Linked DNA regions of Homo sapiens: all the other regions are linked to region 1. The links come from fine-mapping of genetic effects on gene expression. A gene starts in region 1. Each other region holds a variant in brackets. All regions are shown on one strand. Distances are between the middles of the regions. Region 1 holds the start of STUM (stum, mechanosensory transduction mediator homolog). Region 2 overlaps STUM (stum, mechanosensory transduction mediator homolog). Region 3 holds the start of LOC105373115 (a long non-coding RNA gene).

Evidence for each region.
Region 2: its variant is fine-mapped to the expression of STUM in tibial nerve (GTEx, PIP 0.98).
Region 3: its variant is fine-mapped to the expression of STUM in tibial nerve (GTEx, PIP 0.95).

What each region holds. Positions count from the first base shown.
Region 1 is chr1:226,545,075-226,552,655 of GRCh38, forward strand. STUM (stum, mechanosensory transduction mediator homolog) reads left to right here and starts at 3,690. Exons shown (of 4, transcript NM_001003665.4): 1 at 3,690-4,032. The coding sequence starts at 3,831. RefSeq lists a silencer at 2,674-2,968.
Region 2 is chr1:226,598,720-226,606,300 of GRCh38, forward strand. It overlaps STUM (stum, mechanosensory transduction mediator homolog), which reads left to right. Exons shown (of 4, transcript NM_001003665.4): 3 at 1,947-1,955; 4 at 3,287-7,581. The coding sequence ends at 3,321. Among named protein-coding and RNA genes, the nearest start is that of STUM, 54 kb to the left of the region's middle. RefSeq lists enhancers at 3,247-3,783, 3,784-4,319, 5,529-6,208, 6,209-6,888. The variant T/C (reference allele first, on the strand shown) is at 4,201.
Region 3 is chr1:226,519,970-226,527,550 of GRCh38, forward strand. It overlaps LOC105373115 (a long non-coding RNA gene), which reads right to left and starts at 831. Exons shown (of 3, transcript XR_949221.2): 1 at 144-831. RefSeq lists enhancers at 292-986, 987-1,679. The variant A/G (reference allele first, on the strand shown) is at 3,200.

The sequences.
Region 1 (7,581 bases):
TACAGAAATTCTGTAACTTTTTTTTTTTTTTTGAGACAGAGTCTCACTCTGTTGCCTAGGCTGAAGTGCAGTGGTGCGACACGGCTCACTGCAGCCTCGACCTCCCCATGCTCAGGTGATCCTCCCACCTCAGCCTCCTGAGTAGCTGGGACTAGAAGTGTGCACCACCACGCCCAGCTAATTTTTGTATTTTTCGTACAGATGGAGTTTTGCCATGTTGCCCAGGCTGGTCTTGAACTCCTGGGCTCAAGTGATCCTCTTGCCTCAGCGTCCCAGTGTTGGGATTACGGGCATGAGCCACTGCGCCCAGCCTCTGTGACTTTTTAAATTCCACATCTGCATACAGGGCTCTAACTACCATTTGTATGCTGATGGCTCCCAAATCTGCAGCCCCAATTGCTTCCTTGATTCTCGATTTGACTCAATATCCAACTTTTATCAAGACAATTATCTATGCTGGCCATTTATCAATGAGTCCCCGCTACCTCTCGGATGTGTTCAGACCCTTCAAACTCATTTCCTCCTTGTCTGCTATTAATACCCAGTTTTCATTTGGGAACTGTCCCTACCCCATTCTCAGTCCTTTTCAGTCAGGAAGAGTCCTCCTCCCCCTCAGCCTCTATATAAGCATGTGACCTGATTTTATCCCCTCCAGCCCATCTTCCACACTGTGAACAAATATATCTCATAATGGTGGTGGTTTTAAAGCCTAGGCCCAAGTCTTTGACACCCCTCCATAGAGAGGCGGGGTGTCCCCCATGAAATCTGGGCAGGCTTGTGACTGCATCGACCAGTAAAGCCCTGCAGAAGTGACACTGTGTGACTTCCAAAGTTAGGGCAGAAAAGTCCAAGTCCACACAGCTTCCACTGGTCCTGCAATGTTCATTCTCTGGGGGCCTCCTCTCAGGAAATTCCCTCTCAGAAGCCAGCTGTCATAGTGTGAAAAGTCCAAGTCACGTGGGGAGGCCATGTGTAGGCGCTTTGCTGACCCATCCTAGTTGACCCAGCTTTCAAGTTACCCCAGTCCAGGCAGGCTGAGATTCCTGAGAATCTTCTCAGAAGTGGATCCTCTAGCCCCAGCTGTTCCAGCTATCAGCCATTTCAGTCTCCCGAGCTGAGGCTCCAGATACAAGGAGCAAAGAAGAATTATCTTGGTGTGCTCTGTCCAAGCTCCTGACCACAGAATTTGTGATCAGAAAAAAATGGTTGTGTTAAGCTGCTAAATTTGGGGGTAATTTGTGACACAGTGATAGTAACTGGAACACTTATGCCACACCCCTGCTTAAAATGTTCCAGTGATTCTGCATCACCACCACCGAGATGAAGTCCAAATTCCTTTGCCATTCAGTACTAGATGCCTGTCCACCCCACCAGATCCATCTCCTGTCTCTGCCCACACAAGCCCTAGTGCCAGCCACACTGCAATTCCTGGAATCATCCCTACTTCCCTGGGCTCCCATGCCTTTGTATATTTTGTTGCTCTGCCTGGATGTCTTTCTGACATCCAAGATATTCAGCAAATCATCTGGAAAACTGGGGGATGCAAATCCACTGACGTCCCTGAAATCCTTTTTCTCCAGGAGGAATGATTGACTGGCCCTAAGACAGTTCAAGTGCTCTGCAAAAGAATATTCACAGAATGTGGGTTATTTTCTAGGTCTCTGAATAAAATACTGGTTATATAGAATTGATTCTGGAGCCAGATTGCCTGCATTCAGCTGCCAGCTCTACCACTGATTAGTGGGGGACTTTGTGCAGCCTGTTTAACTTCTCTGTGCTTCAATTGCCCCATCTGTAAAATGGGGTAATAAATAATCCTTACTTTGTAGAGTTATGGTAAGGATTAAAAGAGTTAAAATGTGTAAAGGGTTTTTAGAATGATGCCTGGCAGAGAGTGCTTGGGTAAATAAGTGTTTGTTGAAAATAAAACAAATCTGCAAATAGTTAACTGTAGTCATTGCTCAAGTCCCTTTGAGTATCGCCTTCTTTGGGACACCTCCCCGAGGCCTCCCCCACGCTAGCTGGCTTCACAGATAGGTCCATGTTGTCGCAGCACCTCCAGCACATCACAGCTGCAACATTCCTCACTGTTTCTGTAAGTCTATCTTTGTAGTTGTCAGTATCTCTCAGCTCATTTCTTAGATTCTTGAAGGCAGAGGCTGGATTTTACTCATTTCTCTCTCCCTGGAATCTAAGTCTTAGTAGGCCTTCAATAATTGTGTATTAAATGGAAGCTTGCTATGATTTTAACCAACACAGTAACTCCAGGCCAGAAAAGGCTAAGCGAGTTCTTCTAAGCCATACAGGTTTTAGTGGCTGAACAAAGACTAAAATTTTTAACCCTGTTCTTCTGACTGCCAAACCTAAGCTAATGACTCGTGTGTGTGTGTATCTGTGTATGTGTACACACGCATGTGTGTGTCCACCAGTATCATCACTAACCCCTGGCCATTTGCTTTTAAAATTATTTTATTCAGAGACTTATACAATAAGTATAAGTATACAATAACCCATGTTCTTTTAGCCTCTTCTGAGACCCTGGGTTGTTTATAATAATAATCACTATTATTCCTGAAGGGAGGCTATTGCACCCTTCCAATTATTCAGACGATTTGCTGACTGTCTGGATAATTCCGAAGCCTTTAACCCCTCCCTAACGTTAGAGGCGGTAACTTTCATCCGTTTACTTTTTCCAGGTGCGGAGGCGAAGCAGCCTTATTCAGAAAATCGAATTCAAACAGGACCTCAAGCTGCCGGCTGTTGCTTCTACCAACTGCCCCATTATTAACGCCAGACGGCGCTGTGTCCTCACTGGCTCTTTAACCACCACGTCGGGCTCACAGAAGGCTCAGGTTTCCTCCAGTATAGTTCAGGGGATGGTGAACGCTTCCCAACAAGCCTGCAACAGGCGCATTTCTTTCTGCTTTTGGTGCGTGTGTGTAGGGAAGTGTCCCATCTTTTAACTAGTCTTGCGGAGACCTGGCCTGGTGTTTGCAAATCTGTTTCCTCTATTATCGATCCGATCTCTGGATTGCTTTTTCTCTGACACTTGAAACAAATTCACTCCTATATATTTTTTAAGTGATTTTTTTTTTTTTTTTTTTTTTTTACAAAATAGAGCTGGGGCGGGGGGGGGGGGGTCTCGCTACGTTGCCCAGGCTGGTTTCGAACTCCTGGGCACAAGTAATTCTCCCACCTTGGCCTCCCAAAGTGGGGAATACAGACGGGAGCCACTGCGCTCGCCCCAAACAAAATCATTTAAATCACAATGCACTGAAGGCCGACTAGGTGTCAGGCGCCGCGCGGTCCGTCCCTTGTCCCCATGTCCCTGGCCAAAGGCTTGCTCTAGATCAGGGGACTCAGCCTCGAGGCTTTCCCGACGGTGTCAGCCAAGCACACACTCCCAGTTCGCAGGGCTTCGTGGTCAAGGTTCCTAGTTCACCTGTCTGGGAGGGCGAGGTGTGTCCACCCCTTCCAGCACCTGGGCAAACAGCTCCCTTTGCGGTCCTCTTCCACTGCTTTCCCTCCGCCCTGATTTTCCATTCCTTGTGAGCGGTGGTTTTGGTTGGGGGGAGGGGGCGGGGAAGGGGCCTGGCGAGGAGGGGCGTCAGAGCGCTGTCACCGGGTGTCGCGCCGCCCTCCCCGCCCCTCCGCCGGGCGTGTGGGGACGCCGGAGGGCGGGAGTCTCCGCGAGCCGCGCGGCGCACGGAGCACGGCGGCCGCCTGAGCTCGGCGCGGAGCCCGGAGCCCGCAGCCGACAGTCTCCTGCTCCCGTACGCTGGGCGCCAGCTCCGGCCGTGCTGCCCGGCTGCCTGAGAGCGCGCCCGGCCATGGAGCCCTCGCACAAAGACGCCGAGACGGCGGCGGCGGCGGCGGCGGTGGCGGCGGCGGACCCCCGGGGGGCGTCCTCGTCCAGCGGGGTGGTGGTGCAGGTCCGCGAGAAGAAGGGCCCCCTGCGCGCCGCCATCCCCTACATGCCCTTCCCCGTGGCCGTCATCTGCCTCTTCCTCAACACTTTCGTGCCGGGACTGGGTAAGACACGGCTGCCGCGACCCTTGCGACCCCCACCCCGCCGCGGGAGGGCGTGGGGGGAGAGAAGGGCGCGGCCGGAGACCTCCTGGCGGGGCCGCGCGCTCCAAGTGCTGCGACCACGCGCCACCGCCCGCTCCTGGCGTCCCCGGGCAGGTGGCAGAAGCGCGTGGAGTGTGCACCCCAGAGGGGAGAGGCTGCGCTGGGGTCTCCGACCCGCAGGCGGGGCCCCAAAGAGCCGGAAACTTTGCGGCCAATGTTGGAGCCCGCAGCGGCGGCCGGAATGGCTCTGCCGGCTTCGGAGTAGGGCTCCCGTCCCGGCGCCCCGATTTCTGCTCCTTCTCTCCGTCGTGTGCATCCGTCCGCGAGCCCACTTCCCCGAGAGGAATGGGGTCGGATCAGAATGAGCTCTAGGGCCTCGGCGGCGAGGATCAAACTCCCGGGCGTCGAAGTCAGCTGAGCCGGGGAAAGAGGACGAGCCGGGCTAGATATACCTGCAGCCCCCTTTGGTTCGCGGAGTGCGGACCGCGTGGGGACGAGAACTCTAGCCAGAGTCTCCTCCGCCTCATTCAGGGGTACCTGCACTTCCGCCAGCACCCCGCAGGGCGCCAGGGGGATGGGGGATGATTTTATTAGTTTGGATGCATGTGGCCAGAGATGAACCCATAGCTCCCTCGGATCCCTTCTGTTCCTGAGAAGTAGAGAGTGCGCCGATGTAATTCTGTGCAGGACTCCGGCAGCCGGCAGGGGTTCTGGTGGCATCTATGTCCCACGTTTTAAAGCAGAGGCCCCTTACAGAGATGGTGCAGGAGGGTGAATGGAGGCAGGGAATGAGAAGTTTTCCTGACCCTCCCTCCCTTAACTCCACCCCCAGGTCTCTGCCTGCACGCCCCTCCCCTCCTCCAGCTTGGCACTGGCTGCTCCTGCGTGCTGGGAGGTGCCCCCCTCTCCCGTGCCCGCCCGAAGAACCAGGCGCCCCAGTGCCCTCTCCGGGAGAAAGCGTGCCCCTGTCGGCGAGCCTGTTGCCAACGTATGGTTCCAAGTTCCCAAGAGCAGAGGCCAGCTGGAAGGGGTTTTCAGTTTGACTTTGGCCTTTCTCACGGTCTCCTCGCTCTTCGCCTGCTTAGCAGGGGCCTCTGCTGCGGTGACAGCCAAGGCCACAGCCACCCACGCAGGACCCGTTCACTTTCCCCTCCGAGCTTACTTGTCTTTCTACCCTAAGGGGCTGCTGCGGCCAGAGCAGCCTATCTGAGCAGTAAGTTAGGTGGCCTTTAGTTGGGCTTCTCTCTTCTGGGGTGCCTCCAGCAGCCTGTCCCCCTGGCTGGTGTCATCAGATCAGCTCTCTTTGCACATTTAGACACTGCAAGGAGGCCAGCTGGTGTTAATCTAGTTTTATCAGAAATTCTCACCTGCTGGAGTAAAAAGAGACTGCCTGCCCCTCCCTCTGGCGGATATGAAGATCCTCCTGAGCCAGCATGCATCTTGATCCACCTTTTTTTTTTTTTTTAAGTGGTGAGGTAAACGCCACCCTATGGTCTTTTGAGGAAACAAATGCATTGGTGCCAGGTGAGAGGGGCTGCACCAAGTCACTGCTGCACGAGGAAACCACCTTGTGGGAGACCAGCCCCAGGAGACAGCAGCTGCCCACGCATGTACCTGTGTGTACCCTCCCTGGTCTCCCTTCACTAGGTGCCTTTCCCAGCCTTAGCCCTGCTGCATTGACAGCATCGGCTGCAGGGCACCGTCCATTCCGCTGACCCCTGGCTCCTTGCCCTGGGGATCCAGCTTTTCCCTTTGTGAGATCAGAATCCTATGGGATTTTTGTGAAACAAACAAATAAACAAACAAACAAAACAAACCATTATAAGAAACCAGGAGAAAATAAAGGGAAGATATGCAAACCACAAAAGTAATAAAACAGGTGAGCTGTAGGTGCACAGATTTCTGAATTTTCAGTGACATAATCCTGGCTTTTTTTTTTTTAATTTTGCTTTGGTTGCTATTGTACAGTTTACTGGGTGCACAGGCTCCTGCTCCTCTCCACACGGAATGAGGGATTCCTGATCCTTGGTGGTGGTTCTCATCTGTAAGTCAGGCACACCTGTCTCTTGGCGTTGCTGAGAGGATGAAACGTGATTACATAAAGCCCAGCGTCTGGTGCATAGGAAGCTCTCTGGGGATGGTGGGTCCATCTTGCTCTTCTGCAGAGCTGAGCACTGGTCCCATCTCTGGGTGGGGGTCGCTGCAGCCAGGGCAGCACTGCCCTCTGGACCACTCAGAAGCAAAGGCTCTTTGAGTGCTTTTGATCCCTCTGCTCCCCTCTCCACCTGCAGTGGAGTCCCAGGCAACAAAGCAGCTCAGACCAATCTTGCAGGTGGTTTTATTGCCCCCCTTCCCCAGGAGTGGTTTAAATGGCCCCAGCTCTTGGAAATCTGCCACTTGGCCCAGATCCACTTCTCCAAGGCCTCCTGGCTTATCTGAAGCTCCCGGGACAACTGAATATTCATGGCTGATTCTGCTCTTTGATGAAATGCAGCTTCTTTCAATTCACTCATTCATTTGACCAACACAGGCACCTACCACATGCCAGGCATTGACTGGGGTTGTGATGATGAATAAATCAGTCAGGATGTCATAGACTGCTGAGGAAAATTGAGGCCAACTTTGTCTGAATTTGATAAGTGCTAGGATGGCAGCAGGAACAGAGTGTTGTAGCAGAAATTCTTCCTGGGGGCGAAGGAAGGGGGCTCAGAGAAAGCCTCCCTGAGGGAGTAGTGTTAGGTTAGAACTTGCTGAGAAAATCTATCACGTGTCCTCAGCACTTGCCATCCTCACTAAACTCCCATTCTGGAAACTGCCCAGACCACTGGCCCAAAGATCTTTTCTTTTTTTCTGGAAACTTCCTTCCCTGCAAGTCCTCTCCTGGATTGCAGATTGGATGAGAGGGCAGTTTTTGCTGAATGAAGGCTCGTTTTTTATTTTTATTTTTTCCCTTTGATGTAGGTGTCTCAGGTCCATCCAGTCTGCAGGACCAGCTGTGGAGAAGCCCCATCCTTAAAATTCCCCAGTGCCTTCTCCACCCAAGCAACAGTGCTCTCGGGATAACACTCATATCATGAGTGGGATGTGCTGTCTCCTAGGGAGTGGCTGGAAAGGAGAAGTGATTTATGATCACTCCAACTCCTCACTGAAACAATGAAAAACAATTTTTACAAGTGGACATTAGTAAAGAGAGTCACCTCTAGTCCTATTCAGTGAAACTCTACTAATAAAGACCACCGTTGGTACCTTCATGTTCCAACAATTAGGGTGTTTATAAGTATATACACGATTATTCATACCTGTAATGAAAGTTCATTGTTATGCCCCAACATGGCCAGAGAGTTTGTCTAGTGGTCAGGGGTATAATTATACTTTTATATTTAAAAATTATATCTATCTTGATTTGGTGAAACGAAAATGTTGATATCTCAGTGACACGGAAAGTCGAAGGGAGGAGGACCTCCATTGACCTTTAACCACTCCATTGGACTCAGGACATCAGATAGGGAC
Region 2 (7,581 bases), 54 kb after region 1:
AGCAAGTGCTAGAAGCTGCAGCCCCTACCTTTGCCATGCAGCCTTCACTGGGGGTCAGCGTCAGCCCCTTGGTTGTCTGCACACTGTTTCCAGGGATGCTGTCTTTGCATCAAACTTTTGAGAATGCTTTTGGGGGGTGTATTAGTTCATTTTCACACTGCTGATAAAGACATATCCAAGACTGGGAAGAAAAAGAGGCTTAATGCACTTACAGTTCTACATGGCTGGGGATGCCTCACAATCATGGCGAAAGGCAAGGAGGAGCAAGTCACTTCTTTTGTGGATGGCAGCAGGCAAAGAGAGTTTGTGCCGGGAAACTCCCATTTTTAAAACCATCAGATCTCGTGAGACTCATTCACTATCACAAGAACACTGCAGGAAACACCCATCCCCATAATTCAATCATCTCCCACCAGGTTCCTCCCACAACACATAGGAATTGTGGGAGTTACAATTCAAGATGAGATTTGGGTGGGGACACAGCCAAACCATATCAGGGGGATAGACTTGAGGGCTGAATACAAAAACCAGTCACACCTCATTCTTGCCCACTGCCTGACTGCCAGACTCTTTCACCCAACTCAGCAAGGGAAGCCTTTGCATTTTTTTCCCACAACTAATCCCACCCCCAAAGGGTGAACAGTTGCTACTCATGAGATGGTGCTATAGGTGGGATTACTCCCAGCAACCATGGAACTTGTGTGTCTGAGAGTGACTCCTTTGAAGGGAATTATCACAATGGACTTTTCTATCCTAGAAGACAGTTGGATAAGGGACTCTTCTTTCTGGTGTCAGTCCAGCCCCTTGCTATAAAAACAGAGGAAACTTTTCAGTTGTAACAGTACACTTTGGCTTTTCGCATGGCATTGCCTGGGGTGTCATCAGCAAACACACTATCATGAAAAACTCCTAAGAGGGGAGTCAGAGAAATCTAGATGAAAGTGGGAGTTAACATCAGGAAGTTGCAAGCATGTTGCTTGATTTATATGAATAACAACAAATAACAAACAACAACACCCTGTCTTGGTCATGGGTCAATAAATACTTGGTAGCTCTATGGTGGGCTCTTTCTACTGCCATGCCCATGGCAGACATTGCTAATCAATCATGACACTTTCTGGTGACCAGTCTCACATGTTCTCAGCACAGGGCTTCAGGCAGTCACTACTAATTGATCCAAGAGGTCTGCAAGATAAAATCTGTTTGCCACCCTCTGGCCTGGGTCTTCCCCAAAGTATTTTTATATATGTGGCTCCTCTCCATAGAAATGGCTAAGCACATAGCTCAGACAGAGCCAGTGTGGGGCCAGGATGGGGCACATCAGCATCTTTAGATTGCTGTAGTCAAAGCTCTAGCTGTCCAGGAGCTGCCACTCCTCATGTCCATCTGGAATTTATCTGGAGGAAGGCATGAGCTGAGGATGAAAAAAAAAAGGCTAGGTGCTGTGGCTCATGCCTGTATCTCAGCATGTTGGGAGACTGAGGCAGGAGGATCACTTGAGACCAGGAGTTTGAGGCTGCAGTGAGACATGATCACACCACTATACTCTAGCTGGGCAACAGAGTGAGATTCTGTGTCAAAAGAAGACAAGAATAAAGAATGAAGGCAGCAGTGTGGGCATGGCCAGGATATGGAGGGCTGGGGAGGCAGTGGACCAAGCTCCCTGGCAGTGTGAGAGCCCCTCGCTGTGCCCCTAGCCACACCCACACGCCTGGTGGGCAGACCACTGGCCACTGTGGCTGTCACCATGAGTACTGAGCACTCCCTGCCTGGGGATGGCGTCTGAGAAGCCACTGGCATGGCCCCTGTCCCATCTCCCAGGCCTCACCATGGATCTGCTTTGTTTCCTGTGCCAAGCGTTCCCTGTGGCTCTGTTTTCAGGCTGTGTTTTCTCTTCTTCTCTCTCTCCTCTTCCTCCTGCTGCCTCCCACTCTGTGCTGCTGCAGTTTCCCAAGGTGAGTCTGCGGATGGACGTGCGGGCCTCGTGCTGCTGCTTGGGGCCCTCCCCTCCCCCGAGACCCCCACTCCTGCACACAAACACCCCACCCACTCTCCCAGTGGGTCAATGGGCTTTTATGTTTAGCTTGAACTTTTGGTTTGGAAAATGCTTAAACATAGACAAAAGTAGAGCCCCTAGTAAAATGAGGCCCTAATGCCCACACCAGCCTCAACTGCTATCAATTCATGGCCAGCCTCCTTTCCTCTGTCATTCGCCACATCTCCCCTACCCCAGCATGGGTTATTAGCACCCAAAATTGAGAAATACTCTGCTAAATGAAGAGAAAAAAGCAGCTCAATACACCAAAGCTCCTCTTCAGACTAAGTTCACTGGCTAATAGGAATAACCGCTCGGCAAATTCTGCTCATGTAATAGCAGCTGGGAATATTTCAGTAGGTATCGTTTTTTTTTTCTTCTTCTTCTTTTGAGACAGAGTCTTGCTGTGCCTCCCAGGCTGGAGTGCAGTGGCGCAATCTCGGCTCACTGCAACCTCCGCCTCCTGGGTTCAAGCGATTCTCCTGCCTCAGCCTCCCGAGTAGCTGGGACTACAGGCACATGCCTCCACGCCCAGTTAATTTTTTGTATTCTTAGTAAGACGGGATTTCACTGTGTTAGCCAGGATGGTCTCAATCTCCTGACATAGTGATCTGCCCGCCTCGGCCTCCCAAAGGGTATCTTCTTAAGAAAACAAACACAATACCCTTTCACACCTAAATAAAGCAGTAACAATTCCTTACTATCCACAGAGCTCACTTTTTCCCAAAGGACTCATGATCAACAATGTTTTAAAGGTTTAGCCTTCAGGCGCCCTTTCCTGCCGTAACCGTCCAGCAGGTTGGACGCACACAGGGATGGCTGCTCCCCTCTGTATGCCATCTTCCTCCTTTCTTCCTCCTTCTATCCACCCATACCAGATGCCCAACCTTCGGGGAAGCCTGCCTGGCACCTGCTCCCAAGGCTCTGCACTGGGAAAGCACACCAGACCAGTCTGTAAGCGGCTTCCAGATGTGGGTTCAGGAGCATGTCGATAGCCTTTTAGCTCCCACCCCAAATGCCCGCCCGTCATACATTCCCAGTAGACCCAGTACTCCACATTTCCTGATTCATTCTTTTGTTTCCCATTAGAAAGTCAAAGCCCTTGGGAAAAGTTGTGCTCTGATGGTAGCAGTCATTTACACCTTAGTATAAACAATGCCTCCTGTGTGCATTCTGGGCTAGGGGCACCTCCTGGAGAAATCCTGAAGTAAGCAGGTGTCTAACCATCTCTCCTTTGCTTCTTCCTCACAGGCTACAAGGAGCAGGGCATCCCACAGCAGCTGTGAGCCCACGGGAGCCGCTGGGGAGATCCAGGGGGGCCCTGTGAGGGCTGCACCAGGCAGCTTTGGGCACAAGGACCTTTACATGTTCTTTTCTGCCATTTTCTGGACTGGGGGTGGAAAGGGGGTATTTTTAAAAATATTATTTATTTTGAAAACGCATCTGCTTTTCTCAGCAGGTTGTGAGGGCTGCCAGCCCCTCCTGCTCTGGAAAGCACTGTGGGCGCAGGCACCAGAGCATCAGAGAGTGGGGTGGAGATGAGAACGCCCACAGAGAGGCTGGGATGCTCCGGCAGGCTCCAACTGGCCTTGCTGTACCCACTGCCCACCGCAAAGGCACGCCACGTCTGCTGGGCCGGGCCACACCGGGCCCTGTCTGGGTGAGCAGGGGCTCACCAAGGGGACAGGACTGTGGTAGACCCGTCCTGTGGGACCCCACCTGCCTCAAAATCTGGTGCCCCGAGTGTTTACTGTGTGGTCTCCTGGGGGCAGCACCAGGGTGTGGGTGAGGATGGCCAGGCTCCACCCTAGCGTGGAAAGGCCCACTGTGCCCACAGCTGGCCTGAGGCCTCGGGGAGAAGACCAGTCCCACAGGCGTCTCCTGGGCCTGCCTCCCTGACCGCACCCCCCGCCTCCTCGCAGCTGAAATCTGAGGGCTGGGTGTGTCGTGACCTGTGTTTTCCTGGGAAGGAGAGGAGTAGCTCCTTCCCTGGGGTGAAACTGCCAGATGTTTATACACAAAGTTATTAGACTGAAGCAGGAGTGGGCAGACTAGCAGGCTTTCACCCAATACTTAACAGCATTTCTGGCCCACATTCCTTTTTCTGAAGTCATTGGGGCCAGATGTGTCTCCGAATTGAGAAATTTTAGATTTGAGAAAGACAA[T/C]GCGATCCATTTATCGTACACTTTCTAACTTCCCGGCAGAGTGTGGAACATCTCGCCTACCATCAGGCACGTGAATATTTCTGCAGAGAAACATGTGACTAGTCCCATTAACTGGGAGCTATACAAACTGTAAATAGCCTCACCTCAGTTCAGTCTAATTTTGCCACTAAGTAACTTAGGGAAAAACTTACCATTTGAGAGCTTTTAGGGTTTCAGAATTGCAAGAACAATTGTATGGGGTTGTGGACCTTGATCTGAAAATCCTGCTTGCAAACAGATGTGTTAGAGGGTGAAATTGTCGGCATTACACAAGGACTCCTTCAGTTGCCAAAAGACCATGGGCCTCTTTAAGGAGCCCCTCTGTAAGTGATTGGGACAGGGCTAGATCCCTAATGGGGGCTAGGGGTGGGGAGAATCTAGCAGAAGTTGTCCAGGATACTGTGGATCAAGTATCAATCTGAAATTAAGAGAAATTAGATACTAAGAGGATGGACATTTACATGTCTGTTTCCTTTCCTTTCATTTTCATTCTAACATAGGAAATGCTAACAGATGGGGCTGGCCCAAAGTCAAGCTTCTGACTCCACTTGACACAGTGCCATTGGGCATGTCCCTCTCTGAAGGGCTTGTTTGTCTATCAGAGACTGTCAGAACTCCATGAGGGCAGGAGAAGGGATTTTGCAGGATGAAAGTGCTTGGGAAGTAGTGGCCACCGTTCTGGGGGTTTCAGCCCACCTACCCCATCCACCGGGCTTTCTAATCACAGTCCTGCCTGAGAAGCGGGCCCTGCTGCCCACCCCTTATCATGGATCCCTTAGCTACTGTCCGTCTTCCATTGCTGCCTGGGGCTGGGCTGCCGTTTTTGAACACCTGGCAGTGTCTTTGTCGCGTCCTGTCCTCTCTTCTTACAGACCCCAACCCAGGCCTTTGCCTTCTTCTCTCCTGTTTGGAAGCCTCTGTATCTTCAAGGTGTGGGAACAGATTTGGTTTTCTCTAAAAAGCTAGAACCTTCTGCTGTGTGCAGCAGGCATCCTCCAGGCTGGTGCTGGCTGCTCTCGAGGAAGCTGCGTCAGAGTGGAGCTGCCCCTCTACTCAGATAAAATAGCTTCAGCTGCAGGAAGCCGCCCCCTCCCATGCCCACCAGCCCACAGCCCTTCACCCCACACAGCCCCCAGAGTTTGCCCGACACCCCCTGAGTGATGACAGGTCTCAGGAGGGGGCCGCCCCCACAAATGGGAGGCGGAAGCTTATTTTCCCCGCTTGGGCTGGGGGCGGCTGCTGAGGGGGTGAAGAAGAGATAGCAATTTATGTCGCATGTTTAGTGACACAATCCAGATGCAGGTGGGACTTTCTTGAGTGGCAGGTGTCACCCTGGGTCCCGTGTGGGATGGTTTAATACAGGGGTTTGTGTGTTTGTGTGTGTGGAGGGCCACTGCGCCCCCAGATCCTCCTCTCCCCCGAGGGCTGCGTCTCTAAACCTGGGAAAACATCAGCCTCAGGAGGAGGCCCCTTTCCGGGTAACTGATGTGTGGGAGAAGCCAAGAGGCCCCTGCCTGTCTCCTGAATGAGGCTGTGAGGGTTGCCATGTGGGCGGGACCGGTTCAAAATAGCGCCCCCGCCCCTCTAAATTAGACCGTGGTCTCAGCATGATCATCTTCAGTAGATAAGGGACAGTGGCTGATTTACTCCAAATAGTTCCAGCTGGCCACTCAGACCAGGGCCAGAGTTAACTTCTCAAACACCAGCCAGCTGAAAATTAGGGTTCTCGTGCAGGCAAGTGCATGGTTGACACACAGCCCTTTGGTGACAAAGCTGGGCTTTGCCTGCATAGTGCAGACAAGGCTGTTGGTTCAGAGGCTGCAGGGCACATTCCAGGTTGGGGCCTTTTGTCGGTCGGAATTCAATAGGACATTCCCTGGCTGTGGGTGTTTAGGGCAGGAATTACAGGCTTGCAGAGAAAGTCAGAGGCAATGAGATGCTCCCAGTACCAAACTGTGACACTGGGATCAGGGTGGTCATTCCCTTGGGTCAGAGTGGGACCCTAGAGCCAGAGTGAGCTGTGGGTGGCCTGGGTGTGTCCTGTGGACGGCGGAGACTGTTGATTTGGATGTTGAGCTCTGAGTCAGTTTCAGAACCAAGGATCTCAGGCTGAGAAGGCCAGGTCCCCATGGGAGCGGCAGGAGTCTGATGGCTCTGCTGCCAGAGCCTACCCCAGCCTGCCACGCCGCTGACCTTCCCATGGTAAGGAAGGGGCAGGCAGCATGGTTCCCACCCTCAGCTGCCCCAGACCCACACATCCAGCCCCAAGAGCAGCCTCACCCAGGCACAGTGCAGGGCATTTTAGCTCCTGGGAGGGGAGATGCCTTTGTGAGTTTCAGATGTCAGAGGAGAAGCTCCGAGAGAGTAAGTCATGTGCCCCCAAACACTCAGCTCCTAAGTGGCAGGACAGGCAAGTGGCCAGGTTGGGCCGCCCCCACAGCCTGTGCCGTCCACACACTCACTACAGCACTCCCAGAAGAAGGAGCAGAATCGCATGCAGCCCAGAGCAGGTCCTGTGGAGGGGTCCTCACCCCTCAGGAGTAATAGGGTGATTATGTCACATGTTTAGTGATACAATCCCACCTGTGTCTGGATTGTGTCACTAAACATGCAACATAAATTACCATCTCTTCTCCATCCCCTCAGCAGCCGCCCCCACCCCAAGCTGGGAAAATAAGCTTCTCCCTCCCATATGTGGGGGCGGCCCCCTCCTGAGACCTGTCATCACTTAGGGGGAGTTGGGCAAAACCTCCTAGGAAGGTCCTGGACGCCTCCACCCTGCCCCACAAGGCTCCGTACTCCCACCTGCCTGGGCAGCCCTCACACCCATGCTCCCTCCTTTAGGCAGGCCCAGAAAGGTGCCCCTTCCTGAGGGTGTTGGGGGATGGCGGCAGAGAGACAGCTGGTATTAGGAGCTTCCCCATCCTAATGTGCAGGACCAAGTTGCCCGCTCTGCCAGCCAGGGGCTCCAGCCATGCTGGCACAGGCATCTCAGAGGTGTGAGATGAACTCCGCCTCATGCAGGATGCCCAGGGCTCGGAAGCAGTAAGGAGGATGCTACAGAAAGGAACTGCAGAAAGAAAAAAAGCCACATGGTTAACTTTTCCCCTGGAGGGCAAAGGGGTCCGGCTCTCAAAAAGAAAAGCCAGGCACAGATCCCAACACCAAGTGTAAGGCAGCACAAAGTGGGTCTGAAACCCCAGGACCGGGTCAAAGGCCTTCCGAAGGCCCGAGGTTCTTGAGGAGGGGAAGCTGATAGGGCCCTGGTCTTTCTGCACCAGCGTGGCTCTTTAAAATACAAAACACCCACAAAGCCAAAAACCCTGAAACATGTTCTTTAGC
Region 3 (7,581 bases), 25 kb before region 1:
GTGATCTTGAGAGGTAAGCCAGGGACAGTGCGGGAGGAAGGAAGGGGACACAGTGTGTCCTGGGTATTATCATCTGCTGCATTATGAGGAGACCTGGACTGAGAGAAGGGAATCCATTCCTCAGAGGCTGGAACGTGGCTTACCTTCTTTCCACTCCTGCCGTAACCACTTCAGTCCCAGGACAGCAGTGTCTGCAGGAACCGCTGTCCTACCACAGGGGGAGTCCCTGTGCCTCTGTAATTCCTGTGACTCCTGCCTTGGCTCCTGGTCTGCTGTCCATTCCCAGGGCACATGCTGGACCCTGTGTTTGTTCCCAGAGCAGCTCCTCTTCTGAAATCTTCACTTCCAATGCTTCACTTTCTGACCACAGTCCCACAATATGCCTTCATAGCTGAGCCCTGCTGGAGAAAAATCAAGTGGCCTGTAGATTGGCCTGGGGCCCAGCCTCAGCGGGGCATTTGGTGTCACTCAGCAACCACTTGACCTGGTCCTCTGAATGATTCCCCTTAATAACCGTCCACACCGTCACCATTTTCTTCAAGCTCTTCGCCCCAATGTTGCCCCCTCTGTCACCTACTTTAGTGAGCAAATTGCTGTGCGTTGGGTGCCCCATGTACTTGCCACATGGGTTTATAATGATTTATTTATGTATTTGTTTCCCCAACTCGACTGCATCCTTCTTTGGGTCAGGATCTGTCTCCTATTCATCTTCCTTTCCCTGTTGCCTGATCCAGCACCTGCAACCTCCTGTGGCTTAATCACTGTTGCCAAGTGAATAAGAATAGATCAAGGGGTCAAGGCAAAGGCTCATAGCGGAGGCTGGCTCAGGGAGATGACCCACACACTTGTTCCTGTGAGCTAGGAGGAGCTCAAAGGGCCTCCAGGGACCTCTATGCTGCTCAGCTGGCATTGAAATAAGAGAAGACCAGTAACTGCTCTCTGCATTCTAAAATCCTATGTTGGGAGATGAAACGCAAAATCTGAGGTCATTCAGTCCTTTACAGTGCGGTTTCCATGGCAACTGTGGCCAAGGCCTGGGTAGGGGCAGCTGTGCCTCCTGAGGCCAGGCCCAAGTCCCACCTGTGTGTAGAAGAAGGGCACCCTCGTCCTTTCTGCATCGGGCAGGTGTACATGGGTTTCCAAGTCTTTTCTCTCCCGATTCACACACCCCGAGCAGCAGTGGAGCCATGAACTTCCTGCAGAGTTGAGAGCTTGGGAAAGCGGGGCAGGACAGACTAACCCTGAAGGACTGAGCTGCACCCACACACCCTGGACTCCTCAGCCCACCCACAGGTGCCACCATCCAAAGTCACTTGACCTGGGTGGACTGGGAATAATTCCGCCTCTTTCTTCTGGGAGTGGGGGTTTGAGGGAGTTGTGTGAAGACAATTTTTGTGTGTTTCTCACCACTCTCCTGCCCCTCTGCGATATCACTGGGCTTTATGACCAAGAACTTGCTCTTCTGGGTCTCAGTTTCCTCATCTGCACAATGAAAGGGCCACACTCAATGTTAGCAGGTCCTGGCCAGGTGTGGTGGCTCACGCCTGTAATCCTAGCACTTTGGGAGGCTGAAGGGGGCAGATCACCTGAAGTCAGGAGTTCGAGAGCAGCCTGGCCAACATGGTGAAACCCTGTCTCTACTAAAAATACAAAAATTAGCTGGGTGTGGTGGCATGCACCTGTAGTCCCAGGTACTTGGGAGGTTGAGGCAGGAGAATCGCTTGAACCCGGGAGGAGGAGGTTGCAGTGAGCCGAGATCGTGCCACCACACTGCAGCCTGGGCAACAGAGCGAGACCCTGTCTCAAAAAAAAAAAAAAAAAAAAAAGAAAGGGAAAGAAAAAAGGAAAACAAAAATAGCAGGTCTTAAATACACTGCGTTTCTGTGTCTGCCAGCTCCTACCACCTTCTCTTCATACCCCCTCTTCACTTCCCTCTCTCCTCCTCTGTCTCTCCACCCCCTTCCTCCTCATCTCCCTCCTCATCCTCCTCCATATCTCCTCCCCATCCTCCTTACTTGTCTTCACCTGGTTCCTGGTGACCCAGACCCCGTCGCTCTGCCTGATGGCCTCTTGGTTTCTCTGGAGCAAGGTCCTGGGAGCCTCCTTGACTTTCTCCTGGGCCTTTGAACCCTGCCCTAGTCCATCCCTGAATAGAGATGGGAGTAGGGAGAGAAAGTGGCAGACCAGGCTGCTATGTGGCATGCTTGCCCCCACATTATGGAGCGGAGATCTCTGGGTCTGTTCTCCAGGTGCTCCCTGCACCCAGCCCAGCTCAGCCATGCCTCTTTCTCTTGCCTTCTGGGACTCATCTACTAGGCCTTTTCCTTATCATTTCCATAACAAGCTCTTTGCCTCTGCTTCCTCCTCAAGCTAACTTTCCTTCTCCCACCTTTCTGTCCTGGCTCTCCCTCCCAGCAGTCTAGCTCCACCTTTCACTCCTTAAGACTGCGATTTGGTGGACAACCCACAACTGCCCTGAACTGAGTCCTTTGAAGGAGATTTGAAGTCTACAAACTGCCAAACTCAATCACTTGACTCAGTTCTCATCCTTCCCATGGGGGTGGCATCTTGTTTTCATCACGGAACACTGTGTCACATAGTTCACTGAATGCTGGGAAAGTGCCCAAATGCTTTGTGGGGCCAGGCACGGTGGCTCACATCTGTCATCCCAGCACTTTGGGAGGCCAAGGCAGGTAGATCACCTGATGTCAGGGGTTTGAGACCAGCCTGGCCAACATGGTGAAACACTATTTCTACTAAAAATACAAAAATTAGCTGGGCGTGATGGTTCATGTCTATAATCCCAGCTACTTGGGAGGCTGAGGCAGGAGAATTGCTTGGACCTGGGTGGCGGAGGTTGCAGTGAGCTGAGATCATGCCACTGCACTCCAGCCTGGGTGACAGAGCTAGACTCTGTCTCAAAAAAAAAAAAAAATGATTTCTGGGATATTCTTGTTGCTATTCCATCCCAGGCTCATCCCATTCTTTTCTGCCTGTGGTTTTCACCAGGGCATTTTCTCTGGAGAACCGTGTCCTAGGAAACCCTGCTGGCTCAAGCCCACGTAGACCCTCCCGTGGACCACCAAGGCTCAGAGCAAGGACTTCTCATTCCCTTGTGCATCATTAAAAAGCACTGCTTTTCCTGCTACAGTCATTACAGGCTGAACTCTTCTAATTTTTTTTTAACATCTTGAGATAT[A/G]TTTACATGGGCCAGAGTAGTTTCTTTTTGTCTTTATCTCTTGCTTGATCTTTTACTTCTATATATGTTAGTTATCAAAACAATGAATTAATTCATTAGTATGAATTGATAGCCTCAACTGATAGCCAGTTAGGTTCTTTTAAAAAAAGTATCATTATAGACTCATGGATTTATATATATTTGACCTATTTCAATACACTGCTGTTACTGTCCTTATTGGTACTCACATTTTCACATCTCTGGCCAGCGGGAGCCTCTTCACCCTGGCTCCTGAGACCATTTTACGACTCTATCAAATCAAATTTGTCTTTGACTGTTTCCTCTCTATCTTCTGTGACAAGCTGCTCCAGGCTATATGATTTTCAGGGGCTCTGCTGCCAGTGATGGTTGGATGGTTGGATGACGAGTATTTTTTAAAGTTCCTTACATTATCCCTTTCCCCAGGGCAGGGAGAAAGTGTGGAAAGGTGGGAGGCAAATCTCTTCTGTGTTTCAGGCTTACCCAGGAGGATTGAGCTGGATTCCTTTCGACTGGGGAAAATGACAAGGCTCCCACCCAAAAGGGGGGCAAAGAGGGGTTTCCCCAGCAAAGGTGAAGGGTTAGGTTTGGGAGTTTCCAAGGGTGGCAGGGAACAAGCCATGTTTCCTTGTGGAATCTGGGAGCCGCCAGACCTCTGCTGGGGTGGCCTGCGGATGCAGGAGGAGGCTACTCTCAGCGAGCTGTGGACCTGGGCTCCTCAAGGGGATCCCTATTCTCACGGTTATCTGGGCTGCCCGTGGACCATCCCAGTCTTGGCAACAGGCAACTTAGAAACAATTCCATGATGGAAGGCTGGAGGCCTTTCCTGGTTTTCTACAAGTTCAGCTCTCTAATCTTGCACAGCCCTTGGGAGAGGGAAGCTGACTTTGATATCACGCTGGAAAATGGGACCCAGAGAAGGTTTAATTTAGTTTAAGCGAAGTCATGAGGCAGTTCTCATATCCAAGGACAGTTGTCTGTGGCCATGTCCCCAATTTTGAGACACACCCTTTAACTTAGGACATTTTGTTCCCTAGTCCTAGGTCTCTGGGGAACAGGAGGCTGTCCTTTCTCCAGATGTGGAGGATAGGGAGAGAAGAATCTGCTGTTTAAAGCCCTTCATAAATGCTAGCAATTATGATTTCCCTCTATGCCCCATTGCCCAAGAACTCCAGGCTCACCTCTGCTTCCCTTTCTTGTCCCACTCACCACCCCCTCCTCTGTCACACAGTTTATTGAGCTCCATCCACTCGGAACCATTTGCAGACTGAGGAATATGTCATGTGCTCTCTTACCTCTGGGCCTTGGCACATGCAGGTATATCAGTTAGGATTAGGTTCAGCTGCAAATTACAACAACAACAAAACAAACAAGTAGTTTAAATCTGACATTTATTTATTTGGCATGTGAAAGAAGCCAGAAGGGTGGCTCTCCAGGGCTGATATAGCAGCTTCACAGTTGTCAGGATGCAAGCTCTTCTTAACTTTCTGCTCTACCATACTTTATAGTTGGTTTCTATCTCAAGTTTGCTTTATGACACAAAATAGCTGCTGGCACTCCAGCCATCAAGTCCACATTCCAGGCAGAAAAATAGAGGAACTTGGTTGTGTCTCCTAGTTGAGTCAGAACTCCTTCCAAGAAACCCTGTAAACTTGTATTTATATCCCATTATTCATTGCTAGCTACAAGGGAGTCTGGGAAATGTAGCCCTTTAGCTAGAAATATTGCCTAGCAGGATAAAATGATGTTCTAATCATCAGGAAAAAGAGATAGATAGATATTGGGTAGAAGCTAGTAATCTCTGCAATCAATGAATGTCCCTTCTCTTTGTTCAACTTGCTCTATTGACCCTTTTGCTCTCAGCCTAGATAGAGCTTCTTTTAGGAGACAGGCCTCTTGTAGGTACTTTCCTTGTCCCAGACTTCCTCCTTATCACACTGTATTGCTCCTGCTGCTCCACCTGTCAGTCTCCTCCCTTGAACATGAGTGCCTGGAAGGCAGGGACTGTAGGTGCTCAATAAAGGCTTATGGAGTGAATGCTGGGAGAAGGCTGGGGCAGCCTCATCCAGGAGCATGTCACACTATTTCTCCCTGTGCAGAATGCTATTATAAACTCCAATTGATCTTGCTATGTTTTCATTTCTATGTCATTACCACAAATATGTACCCAAACCTTGTTTTTGAAAGAAAAAACATCTCTTCCCCAAACCACCTGGGATGGCCCATGATTTGTACCTTCACAGCTTTGGAGAATGGAATATAAAAAACAGCATAGCGTCCAAACGGATCTGGACGTGGTCTGTAGGGCAATAAAATAAAAAGTAATTTATAAGTGGCAAGAAATTTGAACTGAAGCATAATTTTATTTTGTGAGGAAAGCCAAGCTGTTCCATATAATTTGTCATTCAAACGGGGCTCTCTGACTTGCTCAAGCCAAAGGCTCCTAACTCCTTCCCATCTCCGACTGACTCCTTCTGATTTAATTCTAAGTGGCCGAGCTCCCGGTATCTCCAGTAAAGATGTTTGCTATCTCTTGGCTTAGGCAGGTTGTCTATACTCTTTGTAAATGGCTGATCTGAGATGAAAAATTTTGGCCGTATTATCCTAGAAATGTGCTCCTAGAAAAACTCTATCAGTAGTTTTCAATTCTCTATCACTGTTTACCAACCCATTCCAAAATTTAGTTGCTTAAAACAACAATTTATTATTTCTCAAGATCCTGTGGTTTGGCTGAGCTTAGCAGCGCAGCCCTTCTGTTCCTTGTGTATTGCTTAGGTCACTCCTGTGGTTGCCTTCAGCTGGGAGCTTGCCTGTGATTGGAACATCCAAAATGGCCTCTCCTCATACCCCATTTTCCATGGTGTGATTATTCCACATTGCATGCCGGTATCAAAACATCTCATGTACCCCATAGATATACACACCTACTATGTACCCACAAACATTAAACATAAAAAAATAAGGAAAAAATGGACTACCCTTTTCCAGGGCCTCTCTCCACATGGCCTTGCACCATTCAGTAGCCAAACTTGAGCTTCCTTCAGCAATGGCAGCTGGCTTCCAAGGAGGAACTTCCTAAGGGGGCAAGCCCAAATTTGCAAGTGCTTCCAAGGCTTCATGCCTGCTAATATCCCATTGGCCAAAGCAAGTCATGAGGATGATCCAAGAGTCAATGAGAGAGGGGAATACACAGTCCACAAATACTAAGTGACATGTTTCCTTGACCACCAATATAATAATCTACACAAGTGCCCTCTAAGGAGAATGGAACAGGAGAGGAGAAGACTAGCCTGGGGTGAGCTGCATTCCTTTTAGTATAAGTTCCACGACTTCATGACTTATTCTTTGAGCTCCAGAGGCAGAGCCAGTGGATGAGGGCTGCAAGGTAGCAGGTTTGGATTTTAATAGGAGCTGCCTAACAGTGAGACACCTGCTTTGTGAGACAGTGAGCCACCCATTGTGGGGAGTATTCAGAGAGAATCTAGATTGCCTCTTGGTGGGAATGTGTAAGGAATTCTTGCCCGAGCTAAGAGCTGGACTAAATAATGGATAAGCTTTCTTTTAACTCGGAGTCTATTTAAAGCTCTCCTAGGCAGGCCAAGAACATTTGTCTCACAGATAACAAATTCATGTCAAGCCACTTGCAAGGTGGGGCGAAGAACGTAGTCCTCCAGGTGGAGAAGATCCCAGCTGTGGAAGGGACTCTGTCTGCGGATTGGGAACATTCTTTGTGCTCTCGTTGATTGACAGCTGCACTGGGGTTGAGAGGGCGGGACTTCCTGGCCCAACCAGCCGTGAGGGAAACAAACAGGAAAAGGTGACTGGGTCCTGGTCAGCACCGTCCAAACACGCTTCCCACAAGTACTTCAGCTCCACACAGCCCTTCAGGGGCTGCCAGGGAAAGAGGAGGCAGGGGCGGGGGAGGGTAAGGGAGGCTGTCTGGGGAGAAGCCACTGACCTTGCACTCCATCAGAGCAGCTCCACTTTCGTTCTTGCAGACTGAGTTTTCTTGTGAGATTTTTGTTTAAGGAAAAGCTTCCAGGGCTAAAATTGAAAGCTTTAAAACTACTCAGAGCGATTTTATCCATGAGAGACATTAAGTCAGCCGAAGTGCCCTGCTGCAGGGGGGACCCTGCGTAGCGGTGGAGGACGGGGGTAGGGAGGCAGCCCTCCAGGCCTTTGTTATTGAGGGAGGGCAGTGGAGGTGCTCAGGGTGGGGCAGGGCTGGGGCCGGGGCCAGAGTCAGCTCCTGCACCGAGGTGCGGTCTCAGGGTACAGTTTCAGGGGGCTTGGCCCTTCTTACCTGGGGGTGGCCCCAGTCTATCTAAAGGCACTAAGACACCCACAGATGACAGAGCCAGAGC